Linked DNA regions of Homo sapiens: region 2 is linked to region 1. The links come from fine-mapping of genetic effects on gene expression. A gene starts in region 1. The other region holds a variant in brackets. All regions are shown on one strand. Distances are between the middles of the regions.

What was found.
Region 2: its variant is fine-mapped to the expression of MIR600HG in skeletal muscle (GTEx, PIP above 0.99).

What each region holds. Positions count from the first base shown.
Region 1 is chr9:123,111,761-123,120,366 of GRCh38, reverse strand. It overlaps MIR600HG (MIR600 host gene), which reads left to right and starts at 4,890. Exons shown (of 1, transcript NR_026677.1): 1 at 4,890-8,606. It also overlaps a transcript of STRBP not described here. RefSeq lists an enhancer at 8,259-8,408.
Region 2 is chr9:123,307,633-123,316,238 of GRCh38, reverse strand. All of the region lies in intron 1 of LOC105376265 (a long non-coding RNA gene), which reads left to right. Among named protein-coding and RNA genes, the nearest start is that of STRBP, 43 kb to the right of the region's middle. The variant C/A (reference allele first, on the strand shown) is at 4,688.

The DNA of each region.
Region 1 (8,606 bases):
TGCCAGTGCCTCCTGAGAGAGGGTGGGGGCTATCTCTGAATCATCCAGAATGAGAAAGGTTCTGTGTATTCAAACTCATACTCTATACAGTCTGACGCCATGCTGTGCAGTGACCACAGGTTTCTCGGTGTTATTAGGAGTCTTGGAAAGGAGATGGGTGGTAAATGGATAACAACAGCAGAGCCAAGAAACTACTGCTGAGGTGGGTTTCAATATTGATGTGTTTCTCTCTAGCCCTTATTTACAGAGCACAGAGCTAGTACTTATATAAGAATGAGTCCCTTCCTTTCTTAATAGCCTCTTCCCAAAAGACTGTTTTAAGTCAAGAATTCCAGTTGAGTTGGTTGTAAGAATAGATATCCTTTCCCACATTATCATTTTAGGTAGGAACTAACAGATTCCATTGATGCTTTGAAGCAGCGATCTTTGGAGGTTTTTAAAAATAGTACCATAATGCAAATTAGGTTATGTAAGCTTTACAGCACAGCTAGAAATAGAGACTAGAAACCATGCGGGAATCTGGGCCAAAGAATTTCTCTCCTTCCAGCACATTCCCATGGGGCTCAGGAATTAGATGAGTTAATACACATAATATGTTTTGAACAGTACCTGGTGCAGAGTACGTACTCAGTGAATGTTGAGTGTTCTTACCATGGTTGGCCGAGGTGAGGATGAACGTGAGGAGGGCAAGGCTCTGCCAACAGGTGTTGGAGAGGCAGGTGCATGGCCTGCTCAGGGTGGAGCTGTGTCGGTTCCTTGGTGCTGATAGGCGTCAGCTGCTGCCAGGCTTTGGGAGAAGACTCCTGGTATCTAGGGGTTAGACAAGAAACACACCCCAAAGACCTGGTGAGAGCTAGTGTGGTGGCGTTGCTGCAGATCCAAGCTTAAGGAAGTTGCTCATGTGTCTGTTACAGTAGTTAAATTACCAGCCAGTCTGCTGCCAAGGGTTTGTAAATACTTGTTTTTTGGCGGGGGGCGGGGGGTGGGATTTAAGGGTGCTTAGAACTTCATAAGGGCTGATCTTAGAATATCTACCTGCTGAGTCCAAGTGTCCAACCAGTGCATTAATAATTTTTTAAAAAGGTGTTTGGTTACAACTGCCTCCGGAATCTAACCTTCAGGGCTTACCAGTGTTTAGTAGGTAGAAAGCAAGTTCCTTTAAAGCACAGAAAGGAAAGGAGGAAACTGATTGGTGTGCTTAAAAGGCTGTTGACTAGGATGCTTCAGTGAAAAGCACTCCTATAGCTTGTCTCTTCTAGTTTGCTTTGATACTTTTGGGGGGAAAAATCTGCACTCAACACCATATGAGGCCTCCCTTCTGCCTATTAGTCTTAGAGAAAACATATCTGCCCATCTATTCGTCTTTCTTTTTGTCTATCCATTTACTGTCTGGACACAGTTGGAAAGTTGCTTTTTTTCGATAAGAGGAAAATGGGTACATGATGAAATTGATGCTTTTGGATTAAATAGAGGGTGCACGTCTTATCTTCCATTCCTTTGTGTGTCTACAAAGACTTCAGGAGCCTCTGCAGAAAGGTGGTCAGATGCATCCTTGGCTGTTGGTAAGAGGTGAGCTAAGTGGGGAACATAGATTGGAGCCCTCAGATGCTCCAAGTTTATAAAAACTGCGTTACGTAGACAAGGACTGAGTGTTACCTTTAAGGAGGCAAATAAGATTTGGCTTGTAGTCAGGAGGTTTTTCTTAAATCTAAGAAATACTTGTTTAGCTAATGTCCTGCAAAAGTTAGTACATTCCCCCCAGGGGAGGCTGTTTGGTGGAGTCTTTGCCTTGTTCAGCCAGCATTGAGGGAGGACTTTTTTGCCTTGACTGATCAGTTGTCAACATTCTAATTACTTACTCCTTCTGAGGAGGGTCTTGGTCTCTCTTGGCAGAACTTTGCCATTTCTGCAGATGAACTGTGCCACCCTGCTGGTGGGCAGAGTGAAGATAGCCACTGTTTGCCCAGGCAGTTTCAGCACTGGACAAAAGGTGTCTGCATGCAGGTGTCTGCTAAATGCCCCAAGTAATGAGGTGAACAGCAGCCCTCAGTTTAGGTCATTTGGAGCAGCAGTGGACTGAAGGAGTAGGAAGGGAAGGGGAAGGAGAGATGCCAACATTTGTATCTTGTGTGCCAGGCACTTGGACATTCTTCTGAATTCTCCAGCTACCTTTCTGGCAATAGTAGTATCCTTAGTTTACAAAAGAAACTGATGCTCCAGGTTAAGTGCTAGAACCATTAATGGAACCTAGTTCTGTTCTAAAGCCTTTTTCTATTCCATCCTGCTATGGATTAAAAGGCTGCGGCCGACAGGATGGGCTCTGCTGGTAGCTAGGCCCTCTGACTTGAGGTGACTCCAGATCAGATAACCTGGCCTAAAATAGGGCTCTTTTCATTTAAATTGGTTGTGAAGAACGATTTAACATACTGGAAGGACAGACTGAAGGGCTGCATTGCATCTGTATCCACAGAGGAAGCATTTTTATCTAAAGCTTGTTTTTCTTTGAATTTCAGTGAAATCTGAGGTATGTGTTTTCACTTAGCTTATATTTTCCGAGTGCATGTTCTCTGCCTGGCCTGAGATAGGTCATGAGGATGTCTTCAACAATTTAAGCCAGACTCTGAAGGCAGGCTGGTGAGGCTTTGGCTCATTGGGTACAAGGAAGAGGAGCACAGAGGGGCAGCAGCCCAGGTCTGAGGTGTAAGTGCAAGGGGGTGTCCCTGGACGAGTACTCAGTAGAGATGGGTGGTGGCAGATTGCAGAGGTCAGTGGTCATTGCCAGGAGTTTCCCTTGGAGTAGGCCTCAGGGCAGACTGCCAGCCTGGAGTTTGCTGTCTTCCCTCCAAGTTGGACCCGTGTATGGTAAGCCCTGCTTGGATGGCTTTGGGGTCTCTAAATTGCTGCCTGTGAACCACCCTGTTGAGCGTGTTGGATTCTTCTGCTGCTGTAACCACTTTACCAGCTCCTGGGCTAATGAATGACAGCTGGGTCTCTGCTCAGGCGTGGGTGGGTGCGGGGATGGCTGCGGGATCCTTTTCAGGACAAAGTATTCCTCATCCACCCCAAGTCATCCTCTTTCTGGGCACTTGGCAATGTTTCTGTGCACCCTGCTGTAATCCTGGAGGGGAGCAGGAAAAAGGAACCTTTGAATCCCAGGCTGTCGTGTTCTAGAGCATGACTGTGTCAGGGAGAATGAGCGCCTGGCATTCATAGAACACAGTCCTCTCTCAGGCCCTTTCCCGTTTGCCATTTCATGACTTGCTGTACTGGTGGCCCTTGGAGAAGCAGCAGTGCATAGATCGTTGTTCCCACCTTGCAGACAGGGAGAGTAGAGCCCAGAGATCTCTCCAAACCACACTGCTTATTTGTGGCAAAGCATTGTGGCCCCTAATGAGTTTTTAACCACCAGAAGAAATAACATTTCTTAAGACTGTTTTTAGAGGTAACAGCAGCCCTTTCTGAGGAATTAGTTTTGAATTTCACCACAACTGGAATTAGAAATTTTCTCCTTTTACAGATGAGGAAATAGATGCTTAGATAAGGTGACTTGCCCCAAATTATAGTGCGGTGAGTGGCGGCGCTCACCCCGTCTGAGGCTATGCTGTGTGCAGGTGGTTTGCGTCGCTAGTAGGCACCAATGTCCGTTCTGTCTTCCAAGCCCACTTGGCAGCAGTGGCTTCTCTCTCTGTGATGTGTTCGGCTCACCTTTCCTGTAGGCTTCTGGGCTATCCCCTGTGCGCCTTGAAACCAAGCAAAAACCAACCCACATCTCCCTGATCCTTCCTTAGCCTCCTAAAATCCAGACTTTCTGGGCTCGTTCTTTTTCTGTTCCTTTGTTAGTGTGCTACTGGGCAAGGTGACCAACTGGTCAGCCCTGGGCCAGGCAGCCTGTTTTTTTGTTTTGTTTTCTTTTTTGCCAGCTACACAGTTGGGGTTAATTTCTACAGACCATCATTTTATACTGTAACTGAACCCTATAATAAAGTGCAAATTCAGTAATTGCTACTTGGAGAGCTCCTCAGGGGTGGGAAGGAGGACAGGGGATGTGCTGTTGGAAGTATGTGTTTTATGTTCCGCCTCATCCACACTTTGGTTTTTGGCCACATCCTCCGTTCCTGGCTCGGCCTTCAAACATGTGCTCTAACCCATGGGATCACCGTCACAGTAACACATTTTCCAGAGCAATCTGGTGTTGGGATCCCCTTGGATTCTTCCATCATGAGACTTCTCGGAAGTCTCAGCTTTCTAAAAATCCCTCATTCCTGCAGAGGCTACGTTAAAGGAATATGGTAGCCATCATCTGGGAGGTAAAAAACCTATGGAAATTGGCACCTGGGGAACTCAGGAAAGCTGAAAGCACCTTGAAATGAGATGGAAGGACCAGAAGGTTAAGGCTGGTGAAGAGGAGACCTGGAGAGAACGTGGGCACTCCTGCCAGGTATTTTTAAGGGATTATATTTATTTGTTGTATGTGGTTCCAAAGGGTGAAAGACAATTATGGGAAGCCAGTGGGGCAATTTGAGCTAAAATACACCTCCCGCGATGACAGACGCAGCCTTGAGAGAGCAGCTGAGGTGCGACATGAGCTCCCTGTAACCAGCATGTTCAAGCAAGAAGCCGGTTGTGTGGACGGCAAAGAGGAAATGCTGTGGAATGTCAGTTTGGACGAACTCTGATGTTGACTGGTGATGCTGCCAAGACCATGTCTCCCTTCTTGGGCACGTAGATTTATTGAGAAAAACCATTCACTGTCACCTACTGCTTCTTACCAGGCTCTGTGATGGGGGAGAAGGAGCAGTTGGAGAAAATGTCAGAATCTGCAGCTTAGACAACTGAGTAGAAGGTGAAATCATTGACCCAGATGGAGAGTACAGGGAGGGGAAGAAAGAGGTGCAGAGGATTTGAACAGAATGAGAGTCCTCCTCTGTGCAGGGAGAAAGGCTTCAGTGGGTCTCCCCCTCCCTGCTAGGGATCCTCCTTGCCAGCCCTGGGCTGGGCGCTGGCAGGCCCGTTCCCAGGTCTCCCGCCGAGGGCAGGAGAGGAGCCAGGCCTCAGGAGAGAAGTGCTTACTGAGTAATTTACCAAGAGCGATAGGCTTCCCACTGAGCCAGACGGGATCCCCAGGAGGGGAGTCAGAGGCGGGCCTGGCATGCATGCACAGAGAGAGTGTGCCCACTTGGGGAGTGTGAAGGGCCTTGCTGTGGGACCCGAGAGGATGAGCAGAGTCAAGTGGCAGGTGGGACACACAGTCTGCAGTCACTTCTTAAAAGGCCCTGGGTGGTGTGTCCTTCAATGATGACCATTGTCCACAATAGTGAGTTCCAGAGGGTCGATTGGGACAGTTGGATAGCCAAGGACCAGAGTCAGGAGGCAAGGCTGATGAGCAAGAGGCTGTTGCCATTGGCCAGGCGAGGCGTGAGGGAGGCTGATGGAGCGCAGCAGCAGAGGGATGGAGAGGCAGGAATGGCATCTCCTCACAGGCCAGGCTCCTCTGCCGGATTGGGTAGGGACGGGAAGATGATGGCCCCCAACCCTGGGCCAAGGAACAATAGCACCCATCCGGGGGCGGGGGACCTGCTGGAGTACTTCTCCTGGACCACTGCTCAGTGGGCAATAGAGGGAACAATGGTGTTTCTGACCAGGACGGGGGAAGGCAGGGGAATGGAGGAAGATACTGACAGGGTACAGAGGAGGTAGAATGGAGCGAGGGCCATCTCCACCGGGCTAGGAAATGGGGCTTTGGTGGGCCACACTCCATTGTGCTGGAGCACTCTGGCATCTCCATTGGCAGTGGGGAGGGGCTTGTGACCTATCAGCATCTTCACCCTTTCTGAGTTTCCGCCGGGCTGGGCTCTCCAGCCAGGAGTCACAGGTACCGGGTGGTTGTTCATGCTGAGGCCTTTTGCTTGGCAAAAAGTTAATCCATTTGTGTTCATTTTTAACCTAAGCAAGGGTTGGAGCTTGTTGGATTCAGCATCTGTGGAACACAGTCTGTAGCCCATGGGAAGACGTGGACATTCTTTCCCAAGTTCTTGAAGGACGGAAAGGACCATGAACTTGTGAGGTGACCGGAGGATTGGTTTTGGGTGTCAGTTTTGTGTCTGTCCCAGTGCTGCCACTTTTGCTTTGAAATGGACGGGGAGAGCTGAAGGCCAGCATGGGTTTCTGCACCTGTTTCCTACAGCTCTGCTGGGGACTGTGGCTCAGGTGGCAGCTGTGGACACGGATCCTGTCAGCCTTTGGGTGGCCAGAGCTCCAAGGCCAGGTGTCTCTTAGCTGCAAGCAGCCTTCACTGTTAATCAACAGGCTACACAAATCTCACCTCTAAAGAGGTGAAATGTGAAAATATATGGGAAGCGCTGCCTTAGCCCTGTGTCCACAAATCCTTTCTGTAAAGGGCCAGATAGCATTTCAGGCTTTATGGACCATGTGGTCTCTGCCACAACTGCTCAGCTCTGCCACTGTAGCACAAAAGCAGCCAGAGACAGTGCGTAAATAGATAGCATGGCTGTGTTCTGATGAAGCTTCACTTACAAATACACAGGGCTGTAGTTTGCCAACCCCTGCAAAGTAGGGAGTATTTTGCCAAACTTGGCTGTATTTCACCAACCCCTTAGACTATAGAGATGACTTACCCTTTGGCTTAATCATGACTGGAAACTTCCTTCCCATCCACTGCCTGGATCCATCCACCTCCCCACAAAGGCTTCCTGAGCATCTCCTCCGTGTGAGCACTGGCTCAATGCACAGGACGATGTAGTTCCTGCCCATATGGAACTTAGGTTTTGAGTGACACGTGGGACATTGGAAGAGGAGAGCAGGTGGCTAAAGAGCATCATACAGAACAGGGCTCAGGGAAGTCCCAGGTGATAGAATCTCAAAGAGAAGGGCTGAGGGTGAATCAGGAAAGCCCTGAAGGCAGGCAGCTCCGGAGTCGGGTTTAGACGAGGAGGCTGCAGTTCTCCAGGAAGGGAAGCAGGACCAGATAACGGATGAGATTGTGTCAAACAATGAGGAGGCCTGCATAGTCACACAGGCGCATGAGGTCTGCTCGTAAAGGACCAGGAGGGCCAGGCTCAGGGGTGTGGACTGGATTCTCTGGGCTGTAGGGAGCCACTGGACAGCTGTGCTCAGGAGGGTCATGTGATCACAAATGCTTATTAGAAATGTCACTGGCTATGGAGGACCATGTCTGTGGTTGTAAGTTACGCCTTTCCGTTTAGTCTGGACTTCCTGGTCAAGGTACTTTTGGTATTAGAGTGGGGAAGAGAGGCCCAGAGAGTTGGACAGGTTTTCTGACCATTGGCTTATAGTCAGTGAGCACCCCACCTTTATTTTGACATGACAGAGCTTTACAGAATCTTCCTTCTTCAGGCGTTTTCTTTCCTGCTATCCTAAAGATTCACGTACGAGGGCAGGATAAATGAAACATTCTGTCTCCAATCTAAGTTCGGCTTGGGGCCTCAGAATATGAAGGTAAAGGGGCGGGGACGGACTGACTGCCCCTTGCTTCAGAATCAAGTCACATGGCGGGAACGCTCTATGGAGCAGATTGCTTCCTTTGTACATGCCCTAGGCCCGTGTTCAGCAGGCCTCAGAGAAGCAGAGGTGCTGGCCTCTCGTCTCCAGAGGCTGCCAGCTACTAAGGGAGGTGGAAGCAACTACCCCTGGGGGTGGACTGCTCTGGGCCGGGCCCGACGTCAGGCGTAGGGGACTGAGGTGAATCAGACGTGGTGGCTGCATTGAGGAATGCTCAGTGTAGTTGGGGTGTTTGTAGCGCTTTCTGCTGAGCATGGTCTTTCCTCTCAGAGGGGTTTCTAGGCACGTTGAAGGGAGCTGCCGTTCAGAGCATCGGAGAGGTGCCAGGGACGTGAGCTGCTGCCAGTCTGACGTGAACAGAAGGTGGGAATAGCTGGCGCTGCCGTGCGTTGATAGGAGCACAGTGTCCGCTGCGAAGGGGCGGCTAGGGCTGGAGAAAGATGGCCTGATAGAAGCGCCTCCACAGGCGCTGATTCAGCGAAGCCCCAGCAGCCCCGCGGGGCAGGCGAGGATCACATGCAGCTCGGAGAAGAGGAGGCACTTGCCCCTCTGCCTGAGCTGGGAGGTGGTGGCCAGCTGCACACAGGGCTGTCCCAGGATGCTGACGAGGCGGGACCAGCCACAGGCCGGCAGCGCTGCACTGTGACTCCCTTTCACGGGGCCCAGCCTTGTCTCTGGCCTTCCGGGACTGAGTCAGGAGGCGAGGGCTACGTTGCTGCCCCAGCACAGTCGGGCCAGGTGTGGGGAAAGGCGGGAGGGAGGTGTGCTGTGCTCTGAGCAGCCTGGCAGGCCCTGGAGAGGCAGGAAGCCACTGCAAACTTCAGAAACTGGGTGCTGCTTCCTCTCGGTGAAGTTGTGTTTTGCTAATCTCTGATAATCAGGTCAGGGATACAGAAGGAAGAGTTGCCCCTGGGTGGCTGCTGTCTTTAGACTTGTCGGGCTCCCTCTGGTACAGAAGTGCCTCTCGGATTTTGCTGCCTGGTCTTCTCTCTTATGGACATGGAGTAGCTCTCAGGCTCTTATGGTACAGCTCTAAGAAGGAACACTTCTTGCATTGTCTAGTGAAG
Region 2 (8,606 bases), 200 kb before region 1:
CCCAAGTACCTGGAACTACAGTCATGAGTCACCACCGCATTCAGCTAAAAGACAGTATCTTGGTGATATCATTTGAAGCCCTAGATCCAGCCATACCTGAATTCATACCTTGAGTTTTCCAATTATATGAACCAATACATTCCCGTTTTCTTGTTTAAACTAATTTAATCTGAGTTCCTGTAGTGTAAAAATTGAATGAATCTTGACTAATAGAGAATTTCAACTAAAAATGGAGGTCATTAGAAAGCAAAGGGGAAAGTCACATGGACTCCTGCTATAGAAAGAATAACCAGAAATCACAGGAATGAGAAGGTTGCTTCTGCCTCCATTTCTCTCTCTCTCTCTCTCTCTCTCTCTCGTTCTTCCTCCACACAATATCCCATTTCTGCTTTTCTCTGCATATCTGGTCCTTTTACTCTGCAGACCAGGGTTTCTGCTGACCCATTGGCTCATCTGGAAAAGGTCACAGGGCTGACTGTCTTTGGCCCAGACTGGGTCACACGACCCCCTTGACCTATTGCAATCCATGTACTTACCTCTGTATCTGAGGATTGGGGTCAGGCCCACCTAAGCCAAACAGACTAAGATAGGGTGAAGAATCCTTTAAAAAAAGAAATCACAGGGCCCGTTTTCAGAATAATGGGAAAAGAATCCAAATAGGCAAAAGCAACAGGTGATCACTCCCAGGAGTTCAGTGAATTTCTGTTTTATGACTAACCAAGCCCTGACTAAGCACAGGCCCAGCACCTGGAACCAGGGGAGTGGCTCCGGTGGCAACAGGTCCTGGGAGCTGGTTTTGCTTAGGCTTTCTTTAATATCATCGTCAATCGGCCGGGCGCGGTGGTTCACGCCTGTAATCCCAGCACTTTGGGAGGCCGAGGCAGGTGGATCACGACGAGGTCAACAGATCGAGACCAATATGGTGAAACCCCATCTCTACTAAAAATACAAAAAATAGCCAGGTGTGGTGGTGCACGCCTGTAGACCCAGCTACTCGGGAGGCTGAGGCAGGAGAGTCGCTTGAACCAGGAGGCGGAGGTCGCAGTGAGCCAAGATTGTGCCACTGCACTCCAGGAGGCGGAGGTTGCGGTGAGCCGAGATTGTGCCACTGCAATCCAGGAGACGGAGGTTGCAGTGAGCTGAGATTGTGCCACTGCACTCCAGCCTGGCGACAGAGCGAGACTCTGTCTCAAAAATAAATAAATACATAAAATAAAAATTAAAAATAATCTTCACCAATCACACCACATTGCCAGAGGGAAACCGGTTTTGACTTTGACCATAACATGCAACCCTTCTGTGGCATCATTTGAGTTGTAAATGCCACATTACATGAATTTTTTTGTGGGGAATTCCATTACACGGAATACTGTCTCCTACACAGTAGAGCTCCACAGTAGAGAAAACCCAAGGCGCTAGGAGAGATCTAGTGGCAGCGTGTTACTGCGACAGGCTCCAAGCCCTCTGATGTACGCCAGCTTCCTTGGTGTAAAGGACCTCATCAGGGGTATCTGCTTGGCCCTGAATGACTCCCTCAACCATTGCCCACTCCCTGTCTCAGAGGTGGGCTCCTGGCAGCTATGTTTGTACAACATGGCCCTTGGTTGTAGCTGATTACCCAGTGTGGACCTCTGACTCAAGCTCAATCAGCCATTGTCATGTATTTGGAATTTAAGACTTCGATAGAGGAAGAGTCCTTCTCTCCATGGGGCTGGAGTATGTGGACTAGGGGTTGTGGGCAGCCATGACCCTCTTGCCCATCCCCTGGGCAGGGCTGAGAAGAAGAGCAAGCTGGTCCCAGCCCTTTGGAAGGTTGTGGGTCCTTGGTGGAAGTAGCTCTGAAATGAAAGCACCTGGGAATCTTTGGGGCCTGAAGATCTGTGTACTTTGGGATGGGGGGAGCCCTGAGCCACCAGAGGAGCAACAGTGAGATGGGGAGGCAGGTTCAGAGGATTCTAGATGAAGCAGCTTTAATGCAGGGTGGCAGAGGGAGGCTGGTGTCCCAGCAACTTTCCTGGCAAGAGTTTGGGAATCAAAGACCATGGCCATTGGTAACCACTGCCCTTGGTCCACAAGTTCCAGGGAAGCAAAACTTTCATTAGTAGCCACAATAATGGCTACGTTAATTATCAATAATTATCAACAATTAATATTATTTTGTACCAATACAGCATGTTATACCTTCCAAAGCATATCCACCTCCACAATCTCATTTGCTCCTTTGCCATCTATATTGGGAAAAGATGTATTTTTTTTAATTTTTAAATTTTGTTTAGAGACAGAGTCTCGCTCTGTCACCCAGGCTGGAATGCAGTGGTGCGATCACAGTTCACTGCAGCCTCAACCTCTCAGGCTCAAGTGATCTTCCTGCCTAAGCCTCCCAAGTAGCTGGGACCACAGACACACACCACCACACCTAGCTAATTTTGTATTTTTTGTGGAGATGGGGGTCTCCCTATGTTGCCCAGGCTGGGCTCGAACTTCTGGGCTCAAGCTATCCTCCCACCTTGGCCTCCTGAAGTACTGGGATTGCAGGCATGAGCCGCAGCAGCTGGCTGTGAGAAAGACGTATTATGTTCTAAGAGTTGCCATGGGGGCCAGGTGCGGTGGCTCAGGTCTGTAATCCCAGCACTTTGGGAGGCTGAGGCGGGCGGATCACCTGAGGTTGGGAGTTCGAGACCAGCCTGACGAACATGGAGAAACCCTGTCTTTACTAAAAATACAAAATTAGCCGGGCATGGTGACACCTGCCTGTAATTCCAGCTACTCGGGAGGCTGAGGCAGGAGAATTGCTTGAACCCGGGAGGCAGAGGTTGCAGTGAGACGAGATCATGCCATTGCACTCCAGCCTGGGCAACAAGAGCAAAACTCCGTCTCAAAAAAAAAAAGGAATTGCCATGCCCAAAGCCCCTTCTAGAAAAAAGCTACCCATGTACCCACCCCTTGCACACTGGATTAAGGTAGGGGCTTGTTGCAAAGGCAGCCACCCCACGAACAGGGTAGTGACTTCTGGGGCAGCACTGCAGGTGTACGGGTGACCAGCTGAGCCCACACAGCCTCTGTGGCAGAGTTTGAGAGTGAGCCTCTGGAGAGAGGCAGGACTCTGGTTTCCCAAAGGCAGAAGCCAAATGACACATACAGAAGGTAGCAAGAGGAAGCTAAGAATAAATGAGAAGTAGAAGCAGAAGTCAGGAGGTGGGATGAAGGTAGGAGAGAGACATTAGTGGACAGGGGAAGGACCCATGGCCCCATCTGGGCCATGGAGGTGGAGGAGCTGATGGAGGGGCCTTAGAGCAGAGAATGCCTCTGGCAGGTGGCACCCCAAAGCCTGGAGGACACTAGAACGGCACTGGCCCCTGAAGGATGTTCCTGGTCCTGAACACCATTCTGAGCTCCAGAGAGAGTAGCCAGGTGGCTTAGCTTCCTGTCCTCTGATGATCTTGGCCATCCTCAACAGCAGCCACCAGAGTGGTCTCTATTCCTTAATGCAGCCACACATACCCCATACAATGACTCAGCAGAGCGAGGCCACTCCTGGCCAGTGTCAGCACAACTCAGCAAGGTGCTTCCTCTCGTCTGTCCCTGGACCCACTCTTCCCCAGAGGGGGCACTGTCAGGGGCTGACTGCAGGAAGGACCCTTCTGCAATGCAATGGCATCAGTCGAGGCGTCATCTGCCTTCAGCCTGGACAGTTCAGGGATATGTCCCAGGAGAGATGAGCAACACCTTGATTAGTAGCTGAGCAAATTAAATCAAAGCATGGTGAAAAAATCCTCCCTCCCTCTCCCCTCCCTCCCTCCCTCCCTCCCTCCCTCCCTTCCTTCCTTCCTTCCTTCCTTCCTTCCTTCCTTCCTTCCTTCTCACCCAAGGGAGTATGCTGAAATCAGGGGAGAGTAGCCCTGAGAGGTGAGAGCTCCTGGAAAAATGTCAAATGCCCTAAGCCAGAGATGGGGGTCAAAAAGTGTTTTCATCTGGAACCTCCTGATGTCAGGTAGCCAAGAATGGGGAGCCCAGGCCCCTTTCAGCATGCAACCTCAAGGTCCCACAGGCCAGGGGACACCCTGAAGACTTTTAGCAGGGAAATGACAAGCCTGGTTTCAGGAAAATGGATTGGAAAGAGGTCAAAGGAGCCAGGGGGGTGAATTAGGAAATTGGAACCAACATCTGGAAGTGAGGTGAGTAAGAAGAAACAGGTTTCTGTCCTAGAACTTTTAGTTCCTGCCTGGGAGATAAACAATAAGCAAGTCAACAATACACTTATACAATGTGTCCAGGGAACAATAAACCTGTACAAAATACTACTGTAAGAAAGAAAAAATAAAGCAGAGCCGGGGGCTAGAGAACAGTGGGGACAGAGTGACTGGTGCAGAGACTGTCAAAAATAAAGATATGTTCAACGAATGGCTGAGTCTCGCACTTTGATAAACACTGCTTTTCTCTTTACATCCTGAATTATGTTGTCTCGGTTTAGGTTTTAACTCTAGAGGCTTCTCTTGTTCCCTGGGACTAAGGTATTTTCTACTTTTTCCTTTTTTAAGAATCAGCAGCTTGAAAGATAGCATGTTCCCATATTCTTCAGGAATGTCACATTTGATATGGCCACTGGATGCGCTTGACTTCTTTATTTATGATTTCTGGCACATTTCCTTTGAGGACGCTCAGAATAGCTTCTGATCCGGCTCACTCA[C/A]AGAAACAGTGAAATCAAATCTTCCTGTACTAACCCTGAGAGTAAGCAACTTTCCTGATGTAAGCTGCCCCCGCTCTCCGGGAGTAAATAACTGGGTGGTCACAGCCTTCCATGAGCAGGGCCATGTCCTGATTTCCAGTGCGGCTCTCTCCACAGCAACATCTTTGACTTGCATACTATTTTTCTGGTAAAGTGCGTTCACTTCCAGAAATCTCATCACAATCAATATGAGTGGTGTGCATGCTCCTAAGGCCAAATTTGGGCCATTCGCTCTTCACTAACCTCTTTATAATCCGTTAAATGTTTCTGGTCTATCCCTTGGTAATATTCAAATCAATGTTCTGACTTATTTATTCTTTGGAAGCCTCATTTATCTCTCTCAGCATCGTGCCACTTCTGTTTGCCTCTCTTGAACTTTTGCACTCTGGACAAAGCAAAGGGCTCAAAGGAGCGTTTGTTGACTGGTGCTGGTGTGTGTATGTGTGAATGAATTTACATGCATGTGAGTGCGTGTGTGTGTGTGTGTGTGTGTGTGTGTGATATAGTTGAAAGAGCTCTGAGTTGGAAATCAAACACATTTAGGTTAAAGGGACAGTCCGTTTGAGTTCTAGCTGGTAACTTTGAGTAAGTGACCTCTTGGGGCCTCAGTTTCCACACCCATAAAGCAAAAATATAGGTATATATCCAAGAGACATGTAAACATATGTGTACATACAGCAAAAACTTGTACATGGGCCAAGTGCAGTGGCTCTCACCTATAATCCCAGCACTTCAGGGGACTGAGGCTGAGGCAGGGGGATCACTTGAGCACAGGAGTTTGAGACCAGCCTGGGCAACATAGCAAGACCCTGTCTCTAATAATAATTTAATAAAACTTGTACATGAATATTCATGGCAGTTTTTTTTTTTTTTTTTAGGAGTGGGGTCTCTCTCTGTCACCCAGGCTGGAGTGCAGTGATGTAATAATAGCTCACTGTAGCCTTGAACTCCTGGGCTTAAGTGATCCTCCTGCCTCGGCCTCCCAAAGTGTTGGGATTACAGGCATGAGCCACCATGCGCAACCGGCTTTTAAAATTATAAACCAAAGCTGGAAACCAATTAAATGTTCATTGACTGATGAATGGATAAATAAAAGGTGTTGCATCCATACTGTGGAATGTTATTAATTCATAAAAAGGGATGAAGTACTAATATAGGCTACAACATTATGCTAAGTGAAAAAAGCCTTGTAAATATTATGCTAGCTGGGCACGGTGTTCGCGCCTGTAATCCCAGTGCTTTGGGAGGCTGAGGTGGGTGGATCGCCTGAGGTCATGAGTTCGAGACCAGCCTGGCCAACATGGCAAAACCCCATCTCTACTAAAAATACAAGGATTTGCCAGGCATGCTGGTGCACGCCTGTAGTCCCAGCTACTCAGGAGGCTGAGGCAGGAGAATCGCTTGAACCCAGGAGGTGGAGGTTGCAGTAAGCAGAGATCGCGCCACTGCACTCCAGTCTGGGCCATGGAGCAAGACTCCATCTCAAAAAAAAAAAAAAAAAAAAGAAAGAAAAGAAAAGTAAAGAAAAAAAAAACATTATGCTAAGTGAAAAAAGCCAGACACAAAAGACCATTATGTGTTAGTTTCCCAGGGCTGCCATAACAAAGTAGCACAAACTGGCTGGCTTAAGCAACAGAAATTTATTGTGTCACAGTCCTGGAGGCTGGAAGTCTAAGATCAAGGTATCCAGAGTTGCTTCCCCCTGAGGACTGTGAAGGAGACATGTTCTGTGACTCATGCCTAGTTTCTGGTGTTTGCTGGCAATCTTTGGTGTTCCTTGGTGTAGAGAAACATCACCTCAATCTCTGCTTTCATCTTCACGTGATGTTCTCCCTGTGTGTATCTTCATATCTAAATTTCCCCTTTTTATAAGGACACCAGACATACTGGATTAAGGCCCATTCTAATGACCCTTTCTTAAACTAATTGCATCTGCAATGACCCTGTTTTCAAATAAGGCCACATTCCGAGATACTGGTGTTAAGACTTCAATTTATGAATTTGGTAGGGGTGGGGGAGACACGATTCAACCCATAATACCACATGTTGTAAGATTCCATTTATGTAAAATGTCTAGAATAGGTAAATCCAGAGAGACAGAAAGAAGATTAGTGCTTGCCAGTGGCTGGGAAAAAAAGGAAATTGGGAATGACTGCTAATGGATACAGAGTTCATTTTTTAAAAATGTTCCGAAATTAGAACAACTATGTGAATACAGTCTGGCAAGTAAACAATACACTCATAAAATATGTTCAGGGAGGCTGGGCGTGGGGCTCACGTCTGTAATCTCAGCACTTTGGGAGGCTGAGGTGGGAGGATCACTTGAGCCCAGGAGTTTGAGACCAGCCTGGGCAACAAAGTGATACCCTGTCTCTATTTAAAGCATTTAAATATTAGCTGAGTGTGATGGTGCACGCCTGTAGTCCCAGCTACTCAGGAGGCTGAGGTAGGAGGAACACTTGACCCTGGGAGGTTGACGCTGCAGTAAGTCATGACTGCGCCACTGCACTCCAGCCTGGGTGAAAGAGGGAGATCCTGCCTCAAAAAAAAAAAAAAAAAAACCTCAGGGAGCAATAAGAGTGTAAGCAAACACAAAACAGGGCAAGTGGCTTTATTTTCTGTGGTTTCAGTTACCCATAGTCAACTGTGGCCCAAAAATATTAAATAGAAAATTCCAGGCCAGGCGTGGTGGCTCACACCTGTAATCCCAGCACTTTGGGAGGCTGAGGTGGGCAGATCACCTGAGGTGAGGAGTTCGAGACCAGCCTGGCCAACATGGTGAAAGCCCATCTCTACTAATAATACAAAAATTAGCCAGGCATGGTGGCGGGCGCCTGTAGTCCCAGCTATTCGGGAGACTGAGGCAGGAGAATCCCTTGAACCCAGGAGGTGGAGGTTGCAGTGAGCCAAGATCGCGCCACTGCCCTCCAGCCTGGGTGACAGAGAGAGACTCCATCTGAAAAAAAAAAAAGTTCCAGAAAGAAACAATTCATAAGTTTTACATTGTATTCCGTTCTGAGTGGTGTGATGAAATCCTGTGTCGTCTCGGCCCATCCCACTTGGCATGCAAATCATTCCTTTGTCCAGCATCTCCATGCTGTATGAACACCCACCTGTAAGTCACTTAATAGCCGCCTTGGTTATCAGTGCCAGTATTGATACTGTAGTGCTTGTGTTTAAGTAACCCCTTATTTTACTTAATAATGCCCGCAGAATGCAAGAGTAGTGATGCTGGCTTATTGTTAAAATTGTTCTATTTTATTATTAGTTACTGTTGTTAACCTCTTGCCATTCCTCATTTATAAATTAAACTTTTTCTAGGTATGTACAAAGAGGAAAAAACAGAACAAGCAAGTCTACTGGTATCTATAGTTTCAGTCATCCACTGAGGGTCTTGGAACATATTCTCTACAGATAAGGGGGACTACGATACTAAAATTCAATGAATTACACCCTGTTTTTGTTTTTGTTTCTGTTTTGAGATAGAGTCTTGCTCTGTTGCCCAAACTAGTGTGCAGTGGCCCAATCTCGACTCACTGCAATTTCCGCCTCTTGGACTCAAGCCATTCTCCTGCCTCAGCCTCCAGAGTAGCTGGGATTACAGGCACCCACTGCCACGCCCGACTAATTTTTGTATTTTTAGTAGAGACGGGGTTTCACCATGTTGGCCAGGCTGGTCTCAAACTCCTAACCTCAAGTGATCCTCCTGCCTTGGCCTCCCAAAGTACTGGGATTACAGGTGGGAGCCACTGCGCCCGGCAAATTACACACTTTAAATGGTTGAACTGTATGGTCTGTGAATTACATCTCATTGAAGCTGCTTTTTTTTTTTAAGGGTGCAATGTTTACTATTCTTTTGCCATAATAAGGTCATGCAGAT